3 separate regions of the Homo sapiens genome follow, and regions 2 and 3 are each reported to be linked to region 1. The links are microRNA targets in miRTarBase. Many come from high-throughput screens and were not tested one by one. Region 1 holds a microRNA gene; each other region holds the end of a gene's coding sequence.

Region 1 (3,255 bases):
TTACCAGTGGTGGGAGTGAGTGGACTGGCTGGTCGAGTTCGGGCCAAAGCAGAACTCCTGGGCTGAAAGCTGGTGCCAAGCTCTGTCCAGCAAGGGGGAGTGGAGCAATCTTACTGCTCCCAGACACCATAACTATGACTTCTACTGGGGCTAAGGTGATGATGCGCTGCCATATTGGTATTGGTCTGCTCTGGGGCCCAAAGATTGTAGAGGTCCCCTTCGACTGGAGAGTTGCTCCTGCAAAGTGCTGGGTAGCTCTCTGCCTCAGGCTAGAAGGATGGTGGGGAGATGTAGGGTGGGGGCAGAAGTCTCCCATTCCCAGTCTTGCTCAGGTCACTGTGAAGATCATGAATCCCCCCAGGGGTCTCACTCATTCACCCTTTCCCATGTTGGAGAGATTTTCCTGGCTCTGTGCTGAGCTCAGACAGGCTAGTGTCCAGTTTCACTCTTCTCTGCTCTCCATGGTCCCTTGCTGCCTTGTGGATCCTAATGTGGTTTCTCAGATGGTCGACCCACAGCGTCAGTGTTCACTAACCCTTTTGTTTCCTCTCCACGAGGGCAGTGCACATGACGTGCTTATAATCCAACATTTTGGCCTAAACTGCTCAGGATATTCATTTTGTTTTTGTGTCTGCTAACACAACGTCTATTCTGCAGTCCACAGATCAAGGAGTATTTTTCAACTTTCAAGCCTTGTTATTTAGTAACTACATTGCATAAGGCTATAGCTTATAGAGATAGTGATTTCTCTCATGGATCTGGGCAAAGTAGGTTGAAAAATCTTCTGCAAAGGTTTCACCATTCTATATGAAATTAGGAACATTTGTAATTTATGGGAGGAGGTCAAATTATCATAGTTACCAGGAGTTTGGAAGAAGGGGAGTCCAACACTCATAGATAACTTTGAGATATTCAATACTTCAGTGGAGAAAATAACTGAAGATGTGGTAGAAATGGCAAAAGAATTAGAATAAGAGGGCCCTGAGGATGTGACTGAACTGCTGCAATCTCATGATGAAACTTTAAGGGATGAGAAGTTGTTTCTTACGGATGAGCAAAGAAAGTGGTTTCTTAAAATGGAATCTACTCTTTGTGAAGATGCTGTGAACATTGTTGAAATGACAACAAAGAATTTAGAATATTACACAAACTTAGCTGATAAAGCAGCAACAGGGTTTGAGAGGGCTGACTCCCGTTTAGAAAGAAGTTCTACTCTGGGTCAAATGCTGTCAAATAGCATTGTGTGCTACAGAGAAATATTTTGCAAAAGTGTCCATTGATGTGGCAAGCTTCACTGTTATTTTACTTTAAGAAATTGCTACAGCCACATCAACCTTCAGCAACCACCACCATGATCAGTCAGCAGCCATCAACACTGAGGCAAGATTGTCCATCAGCAAAAAGATTGCTACTTACTGAAGGCTCATATGGTCATTAGAGATTTATAGCAACACAGTATTTTTAACTAAGCTATGTGCATTTTTAGACATGATGCTATTGCACAATTAATAAGACTGCAGTATATAAACTAACCTGTATATGCACTGGGAAACTGACAAAAAATTGTGTGACTTCCTTTTTACTGTGATATTCCCTTGTTTTGTGTTGGTCTAAAACCAAGCCTGAAATATCTTCAAGGTATGCTTGTTTATCAAAGTCACCTACCTATCTGCTTGAAATAGAGAAGATATTTCAATTGAAACAACATATTAAAGCCCAAGTGCATCCCTAAATCTCAGAAGAAAACTACAGCCTGTTTGTAAATTGGGTAGCCTATTTTTCTCCTGCAGTAATAAATCCGTGTCTCTGTCATGGTTTCTATAATAAGGTTTCAACCTGAACTCCTTTTTGAAGAATTGTCACCTAGGAAACAAATTTTAAATTATTTGCAAATGGAAAATCTACCAAAAAGGACTTACAATTTTGAATTTCATACATCTTCAAATTCATAATCTCAAAAGAGTATTCTTTCACTGACATGGCAAAAATTAATTGGATGAAGTGATACTTAAGTTTTTCATTTTTCTGAAAAATGCTCACAGAAAGCACTAATAAAAGAGTGTTTTAAATTAACTAATTTTCTTCAAAATTTTCTCATTACTTGTATCAATTCCAATGTCATTTGAAGATGGAATTTTTACAGCCCAATTGGCAAAATTAGCAACATTTTAGGAATATGGCAAGATTATCGTGTCTTTTGACATGTAATATAATGGCCATTATTTCTTTAGGAAAGAATTTAGCAAAAGTTAAACAAAGCATAAGAACACAATTCTTTCCAAAATCAAGCAGCATAATTCTAAAAGGAAGTAAGGGGAAAAACAATAAAAAAAATTATTGAGATTGCATGTCACTTAGAAAATATATAGGAAATTAATATTGAACTAGAAACTAATGTGTACTAATGTCTATTTATGCAATATATACTTCATATGCTTATATAAAATCACTTAGGTCCTACTATTACTAGTTTGTGAAAGTTGATAACGTTTTCCCTGATGATTTTGTCAACCGGTATTTTTCTTCACTCTACTGGATGACTGTCTTAAGTTATTCATCACTTAGCATTTTTCAAAAGTATTAAATAACAATGATATTAATACTAATAGTACCATTCAAAAAGGTCATGATTATCTCTGCTCTTTTTTACTTTTTTTAAAATGGGTATCATCTACAACAGTGGAAGGCCATATCCAGGCATGCATTCTAGAACAGATTCCATTTGTGAGGACACAAGTAAACTGCAAGACCAATCTAGATATTATTTTTAACAGTAAAATGATTAATTGACAATTATTGCAATCACACTACAGAATAAACCACATTCAGTTTAGGAAATAACTAACTTTAATATGTCTATGTTAAACAGATTATAAAACAATACACCAATTGAGTTAAAAAAAAAAACCTTTTTTTCTCTGCTAAGGAGTTGATAAAACCCATAGCCATGAGTGACTAAGCAATTGTTTCTGTTCTGGGTCTATGCACTTTCTTGTTATTGTCTTTCTTTTGTTCATGTGTTTGTTCTCTGTTTGTCTTCAGTTCTAATGATTGTCCCTGTGTCAGGCTATGATTGTCCCTGTGTCAGGCTCATACAGCTTGGTCTCCTATAATTTCTTCTGTTGGTAAAATAAAGTACATATTTTCATCAAATACTTCTTTTTAACCTTTAACTATTTCTATTTCTATTTCTATTTCTATTTGCTGTTTGCACAATCTGTGTGAATGCTGGAAGTGTAGCTCTTTTCCAAATCC
Region 2 (3,255 bases), not on the chromosome of region 1:
AGGGCCCTGGGGTCAGGCTGGGCCAGCCACACACCTGGAAACAGGATGGACAAGGCCACTACAGCCTGAGGCTCTGTGACCTCAGACAGCCAGGCCCTGGGGGACACCGTGAATGGGAATCTCCCTGCGGGGGGGCGGGGAGTCCAACAGCCAAGGCTTCGTGGAGCAGCCACCAGGAGGAGTCACAGCAGCTGGCGAGGGGGTGCCGGGACCCCAGGACCTTCTCGGGAAGCTCCTGCTGTCACAACCCAGGCTGCAGGCTAAAGTGAGGGAAGAGAGGTGGATGCTAACTTGAGGTATCAGGACTTTCAAAAAAACATCACTTGAGCCGCGCGCAATGGCTCACGCCTGTAATCCCAACTGCTCAGGAGGCTGAGGCAGGAGGATCACTTGAGCCCAGCAGTTCAAGACCAGCCTGGGCAACATAGCAAGACCCCTGTCTCTTAAGGAAAAAAAAAGGCCCTTGTACATGGTCTCCGGTCTCCCGGGATGGGGGTATGCTATCTGCTGGAGGTAGGTGAGGGGTCCAGGCAGAGTGGGGTGCAGGGATGGGCCGTGCAGCTCTGATCCAGTGACCCTGGCCAAGCCGGCACCCCGTGGATGGCCCAGCTCCGCCCTGGCCATCGACTGAGAGGCAGAGGCAGAGCCCTGAGTGAGCCGCCGCGGCCAGTGGGGCTGGGCGGCTTGGAGGGGCAGCACCTTGGTCCGAGCGACCCGGGGTGGCATTCCCCTGCATCTTAAGACCATAAACAGCTACTACGCGCATTCATAAATACACAATTTTATTTGCTATTTCCAGGGGAAACTTAGGCATTAAACTGTAAGCTGATAAAATACGATACCTAAAAAAGTATAAAAGTATAAATATCCCCTTAGAATAAATTTTAGTGAATTAAGTCTTAATATCTTTAAATTAAAAAAACCACAAGCCTATCTACTATGTCAAGGTCAAAAATCAAACAACGCTAAGCGGCCAGCAGCTCCCCAGAGAGGATGCCCAGGAGCCCCAGCGGCCGCCTTCCTCCCAGGCTCTGCTGGGGCTAAGTCTGCCTTCTAGAAAGGCTTTTATAAATTGTTTAAGCCAAACATTTAACAACATACAAGAGACCTTACAAAAAGAAGGAGGTAAGTCCTAATGCTGGAGAATTGGTTAATCAGGTGACTGGCAAAGAGGAGGATGAGGCCTAGGCAGGAAGTCTCCAGAAGCATTGGAAACCAGACAGTGTCAGAGCCTCTGACCTGCAGGCGGGAGGCCGGTGGTCAGTCTGCACAGTACCCCTTGGGAAGCCGGAGTTCCGGAAGCAAAGCGCTTGGAGCCCGCCCTGCACGCCGAGTCCCCAGACTCTGACAGGTCCCCACAGCCAGCTGAGAAAGGTCTGTTTTCAAAGCATGCGGGCAGCGGTTTCTAAAGGAATCCCAGCAGCTCCCACGGCATGTCGGGCAGAGCCCGTGCAGGTCGAGTGAAGTCCCAAACATCCCAGAAAGAGAGGGAAGGCTGCATAGTTATACAAAGAAAATGAGAGAGCGGCGAGAGAGAGGCATTTGTGATGCTCTGTAAACATCCCGAATTTTCACCGTGACGCAGACCTTCAGCTCCAGAAGCCAGTGGACAGGCCTCCAGCCCAACCTCTATGCCAGGCGTGACAAGGCACTGACAGACGCCAGCTCCCCGTGAGCCCGCAGTGGGAGGGGCGAGGCGACACTGCTACCTCGCGCTAACGGATGGAACAGATCAGTCTCCACGCGGCAAGCCCTGTGGGCATTTCCAGAGGAAAAACGCTGGGGAGTCTATCCACACAGAGAAGGGGTACAAAGTTCTCTTGCCTGGAAAATACAAATTGAGAAGCCTTGACTGTCCCGGGCTTGGTCAGGTGGGGTTGGAGCCCGTGTCAGAAGAAGGCCCGGCCTCGGAATGGCGCCGGGAAGCAGTGACGACGCAGAAGCCGCCTTTGTCAGGAGCTCTGCGAGGTCGAGAGAAACCAGCGATCCCGCCTGGGAGGCAGAGCAGACTCCCTGACCGAGACTAGGGCCTGGTGGTCGGACCAGAGGCCACGACGTGCTGGACACTGACGCGGCTGCGGCCGCTTCCTGCCAGTGAAGCCCAGGCTGCTTTTCCAGACTGTGTGTAGCACCAAGAACGCTTCCTTCACACGATCTTCAGGATCGAGCGGGCTGACTGGGAGTGTCTGCCTCAGTCCCACGTGGCACTTGGAAAAAACAGAGCGAGGCCCCCCCAAGAGGCAGCGCCCACCCGGCCGCCGTGCTCCCCCAACTTGGGGACGTCTGGCCTTGGACAGCTGGGCCCGTCTCTCACCACCCACCTCAGAGGCAAAAAAGGATTCACACCCAGATCTCTAGAAAAATGATCAAAAGCAGGTTTCTTCTCACAGCCAAGCTTCCTGGACATGGCAGTTCATTACATCTCGGGAAAACGTAAATCATTTCTTCAGCTGTCAATACTGTGTCCCTCACATCCTTGAGCCTCGTTCTTGCAAAATCTGAAAAACACCAAATGCATAAAATGAGGACTTGGGCTGAGGAGGTGTCCCTGACCAGGCGCCTGCTCCAGAAAACAGAGCCCACAGGCCTGGGGTTAGCTCGGGGAGCCCCGGGAACCCAGCGGCACTGGCCAGGGTCTTGGGGACTCAGCTGGCAGGCCCAGGACCTTCACCGGGGTGTCTGGCACATCTCCAGGCCCCACACAGGGAGCGCTCACTGTGCATGGCAGCCCCTCCCAGACCCACCCAAAGGCGCTGACTCTTGGGCCTCTCAGCCCACTCAGTCCTGGGCCTCAGACATGAAGCGCAACTCGGCCCGCGGGTCCCTCAGCAGTCCAGTCCCCCCTCCCCAATTAAGTCTCTCCCTCTGTTCCTCCATGCCCACTGCAGCCCCCACCCCCACCCCGACGCCCGGACCCTCCTGGAGATGCCCCTCACCCAAGCCCTCGGCCCTGCACCTCAGCCTGGCCAGCCCACCTCATGTGCTGGCCCCTCCCGACTGCCCCATGGAACAACCACCAGCCCTCAGAGGGCCCTACCCCAAGTGCAGATCACGCTGCGGGGATCCCCTCCTCATCTGTACCACGTCAGCCCTGCAGAGCCCACGGCCCCTCGGCCCCCTGCCCTCCCCACCCTCCAATCTCCTCAAAACTCTTCCTCAAGGTACCCTCCCCACTTCCCTCACCAGTGTCCAGGAACCCCCTGAGGCCACCCCCAAGTCGGCCTGGGCTCCCCTGAGGACAGGCTCAGGCGCTGG
Region 3 (3,255 bases), not on the chromosome of region 1:
TGTCTATATATCTGTTTTGGTACCAGTACCATGATGTTTTTGTTGCTGTAGCATTGTAGTATAGTTTGAAGTCAGGTAGCATGATGCCTCCAGGTTTGTTCTTTTTGCTTAGGATTGTCTTGGCTATGTGGGCTCTTTTTTGGTTCCATATGAAATTTGAAGTGTTTTTTTTCTAATTATGTGAAGAAAGTTCATGGTAGCTTGATGGGAATAGCATTCAGTCTATAAATTACTTCAGGCGGTATGGCCATTTTCACAATATTGATTCTTCCTATCCATGAGCATGGCTTTATTTTGCATTTGTTTGTGTCCTCTCTTATTTCCTTGAGCAGTGGTTTGTAGTTCTCCTTAAAGAGGTCCTTCACGTCTCTTGTAAGTTATATTCCTGGGTATTTTATTCTCTTTGTAGCAATTGTGAATGGGAGTTCACTTATTATTTGGCTCTTTGCTTGTCTGTTATTGGTGTATAGGAGTGCTTTGTGATTTTTGCACACTGATTTTGTATCCTGAGACTTTGCTGAAGTTGCTTATCAGCTTAAGGAGATTTTAAGCTGAGACTATGGGGTTTTCTAAATATACAATCATGTCATCTGCAAACAGAGACAATTTGACATCCTCTCTTCCTGTTTGAATACCCTTTATTTCTTTCTCTTGCCTGATTGTCCCGGCCAGAACTTCCAATACTATGTTGAATATGAGTGGTGAAAGAGGGCATTCTACCCTTTTTTGTCTGGGGAAAAATTGTCATCCTTGGGGGGAAAAAAAAGCAGTAGCATCTTTGAGCTTAATTGTAATACCATAGTGCCATCTGGTGACCATATGGAATGACTGCATTATCCACATGGGATATTTCATGTCTAACAAAAATCTACAACATGTAAATCTCTAGTGTGTTCTGGGTTAGTGTTATAGGGACAGACAGTGAGGGCTGTACTTGAGAACTGTTCTCCTGAGCTACTCCTTTGGAGATCCCTCCCCTGGTTAGGCACTTTTTCATGTCAGAAAGAAAAATAAGAATTTTCCCCTTTGCCTACCCTAAGATGGTAGATGGCAGGTTGTATAAGCAAATGAGTGAAGTCTTCACACATCCCTTCGGCTCTAAGGAAGATGCTGGGAAAGGGGAGTTGGTATTTTGTCTTGTTGAGAGATCTTCCCTTGAAAGATTTGGCTACTGTACCTATGGCCTCGAGTCCAATCCCAAATAGGAGTTTCAAACTCAAGTAACCCCGAATAGCACCTAGCTGTCCCTAAATATGAAATAAAGGCCCCTCTTCATTCTTCCAACTACCCCAGAATGCAAAGAACTGTACCATCAGAGTGTAGCCAGGGCTTTTGAATCCATCACACTTTTACCTGAGCTCAGATTTCATGAAGTACCTCAACCCCCACCTCCAGTGGCTTTGAAACAAGTCTTAACAGATGGTCACTCTTGCCATCCATCCCATGCCATCAATTCAAGTCAAGACTGATCAATGTACTGAATATGAACTTTATTGTGATTTGGTTTATGTAAGGCAGTGTAGTGAAGGCACTGCAGAAGTTAAACAGACTGGAAAACATGGTAAAAAATGAGCGAGCTAAAAATGAATGCTTGCTGGTCTAGGTAGGCTAAGTACTACAACTATGTTTCTTTTTCATCATTGCAGAAGCGTTGAAATATTGTTGAAGGTGGGGGTTTGGGGTGGAATTAGGGAAGGCTTCATGGAGGAGGTGGCATTTATACTGGGCCTTGAAGGAGGGGCAGAAAGTTGATAGGTTAAGATGGAGGGAAGTACATTTCATAATGACTGACTCTAGAGAAAATTCTGTAGAAGTACTGAAAAATGAGAGGGCAAACAAACACCCCCAGCGAGTGAAGCATCCCAACTGAGAGAAAAGTCTGAGGAGTCTGGGCTGGGACCAAAGTCTCAAGTCCCCAGATGGGGTCTTCAGTACAAATGATATTAGGAGGCACAGGACAATGGGCTTGTTTGTAAACCTAGCAGCAGCGAGAGGTTTCACATTGCAGTCAGGGGCCCCAAACTGGCTGTAATATGTCTGGATGAATTCTCTCATCTTTTAGGTGTGTATGGTACTTACTTATCTTTCCTCTTGCCCACTGACTGCCTGAATGGTAGTTCGTGCGCGCCCATGTGCGCGTGTGTGAGTGTAGGTGTGTGTGGATGGGTGGGGGACCGAGGCTTTGTCTCCCACTGCAGCTTCTTCCACTTTTCCGTCTTGTGGCACACAGCAGGCTTCCATTGAGCTGAAGCTCAGGCCCCTCTCACTGTCTAGGACTCATTGAACTCCAGCTCTTGATTAAGCACCAGGAAGCTTTCTCAACATGAAGGTAAAATTTACTGTCGGGGGTGACTTGGGTTAGGGCAGGACTACACTTTCCGGAGGTGATGATGGTGGTGAGTGGTGGTGGTGGTGGTGGTCGTGGTTGGTGGTGGTGGCAGTGGTGTCTGTAAGGGTTGGGGACTTAAAGCCGGCTCTGGCTGCTGGGTGAAATGCTGCTGGGAAGTCTATAGTGTTCAGTCAGGAGCTAGGATGTCAGGCTAGACCAGCTTGGCCTTGATCAGCCCTCCTCCTTCCTCAACATGCCCTACAGGGGAGATATATCAAACAACTGAAAACATCAAAGACATCTGTAGGGTGTCCAGCCTCTTGTTATTGTCCTACTTGAATCTCACCCCCGGAAGCCCCAGAGATCCTTTCTTGGCAAATGTGTATGATGTCTAGATAGGACTGTCGCCTCCCCATGTCCAGCTGCTGGAGGTATATAGGTTATGTAGCTACAGATGCTACTTGGATTGGGAGGTATGGGGAATTTATCAGAAGAGAGGAAGAGTTAATTATTGTGAATCTCATTCTTTCTAAAGATTGTGAATCTTAACTAAGACCTGGCACCTGACGGAAAATAAAAGGGTGGCACGCTTTGTCAGGATTCTCTGGGATTGCAGATTTAGAGCTCAGTGAGATCATCGCTGGAAATAACCTTGAAGCTGATGTGGCCTTGCTTGACTTTGGCAGTTGGACCACCCTTCTTACGCAGGTACAGAGACTTCAGATCACGGCAGTCGCTGGGGTCAGCATCCAGAGTAACCTGCCCCAAGAACTGATCACAGAATTTTCGGCTGTTCCAGACCTGGAAAGACAAACGAAGGGAGTGAAGATGAGCAGCCCTCAGTGAGATTAGCCTTTGCCCAGTGACATCCAGATCTAATGCTGAGCTTCAAAAGATTTGTTTTAAAACCAAGAGACTATTCTGTC

What was found. Region 1 holds the annotated microRNA hsa-miR-1255b-5p (CGGAUGAGCAAAGAAAGUGGUU, at 1,048-1,069, shown strand). A microRNA usually pairs through its seed, bases 2 to 8, with sites in the 3' UTR of a target mRNA and lowers its output. Matches are read on the target gene's strand: a 7mer-m8 pairs with bases 2 to 8, a 7mer-A1 pairs with bases 2 to 7 and ends in A, and an 8mer does both.
Region 2: the mRNA of KCTD5 is a reported target of hsa-miR-1255b-5p. Seed matches in the 3' UTR shown: 7mer-m8 at 1,176-1,182.
Region 3: miRTarBase lists CAPN6 as a target of hsa-miR-1255b-5p. Seed matches in the 3' UTR shown: 7mer-A1 at 2,039-2,045.

Annotation. Positions count from the first base shown.
Region 1 is chr4:36,424,219-36,427,473 of GRCh38, reverse strand. It overlaps MIR1255B1 (microRNA 1255b-1), which reads left to right and starts at 1,046; the gene lies at 1,046-1,108.
Region 2 is chr16:2,706,541-2,709,795 of GRCh38, reverse strand. It overlaps KCTD5 (potassium channel tetramerization domain containing 5), which reads right to left. Exons shown (of 6, transcript NM_018992.4): 6 at 766-2,498. The coding sequence ends at 2,469. Among named protein-coding and RNA genes, the nearest start is that of PRSS27, 12 kb to the left of the region's middle.
Region 3 is chrX:111,243,630-111,246,884 of GRCh38, forward strand. CAPN6 (calpain 6) reads right to left here. Exons shown (of 13, transcript NM_014289.4): 13 at 1,470-3,130. The coding sequence ends at 2,948. Among named protein-coding and RNA genes, the nearest start is that of CAPN6, 25 kb to the right of the region's middle. RefSeq lists an enhancer at 2,611-3,255.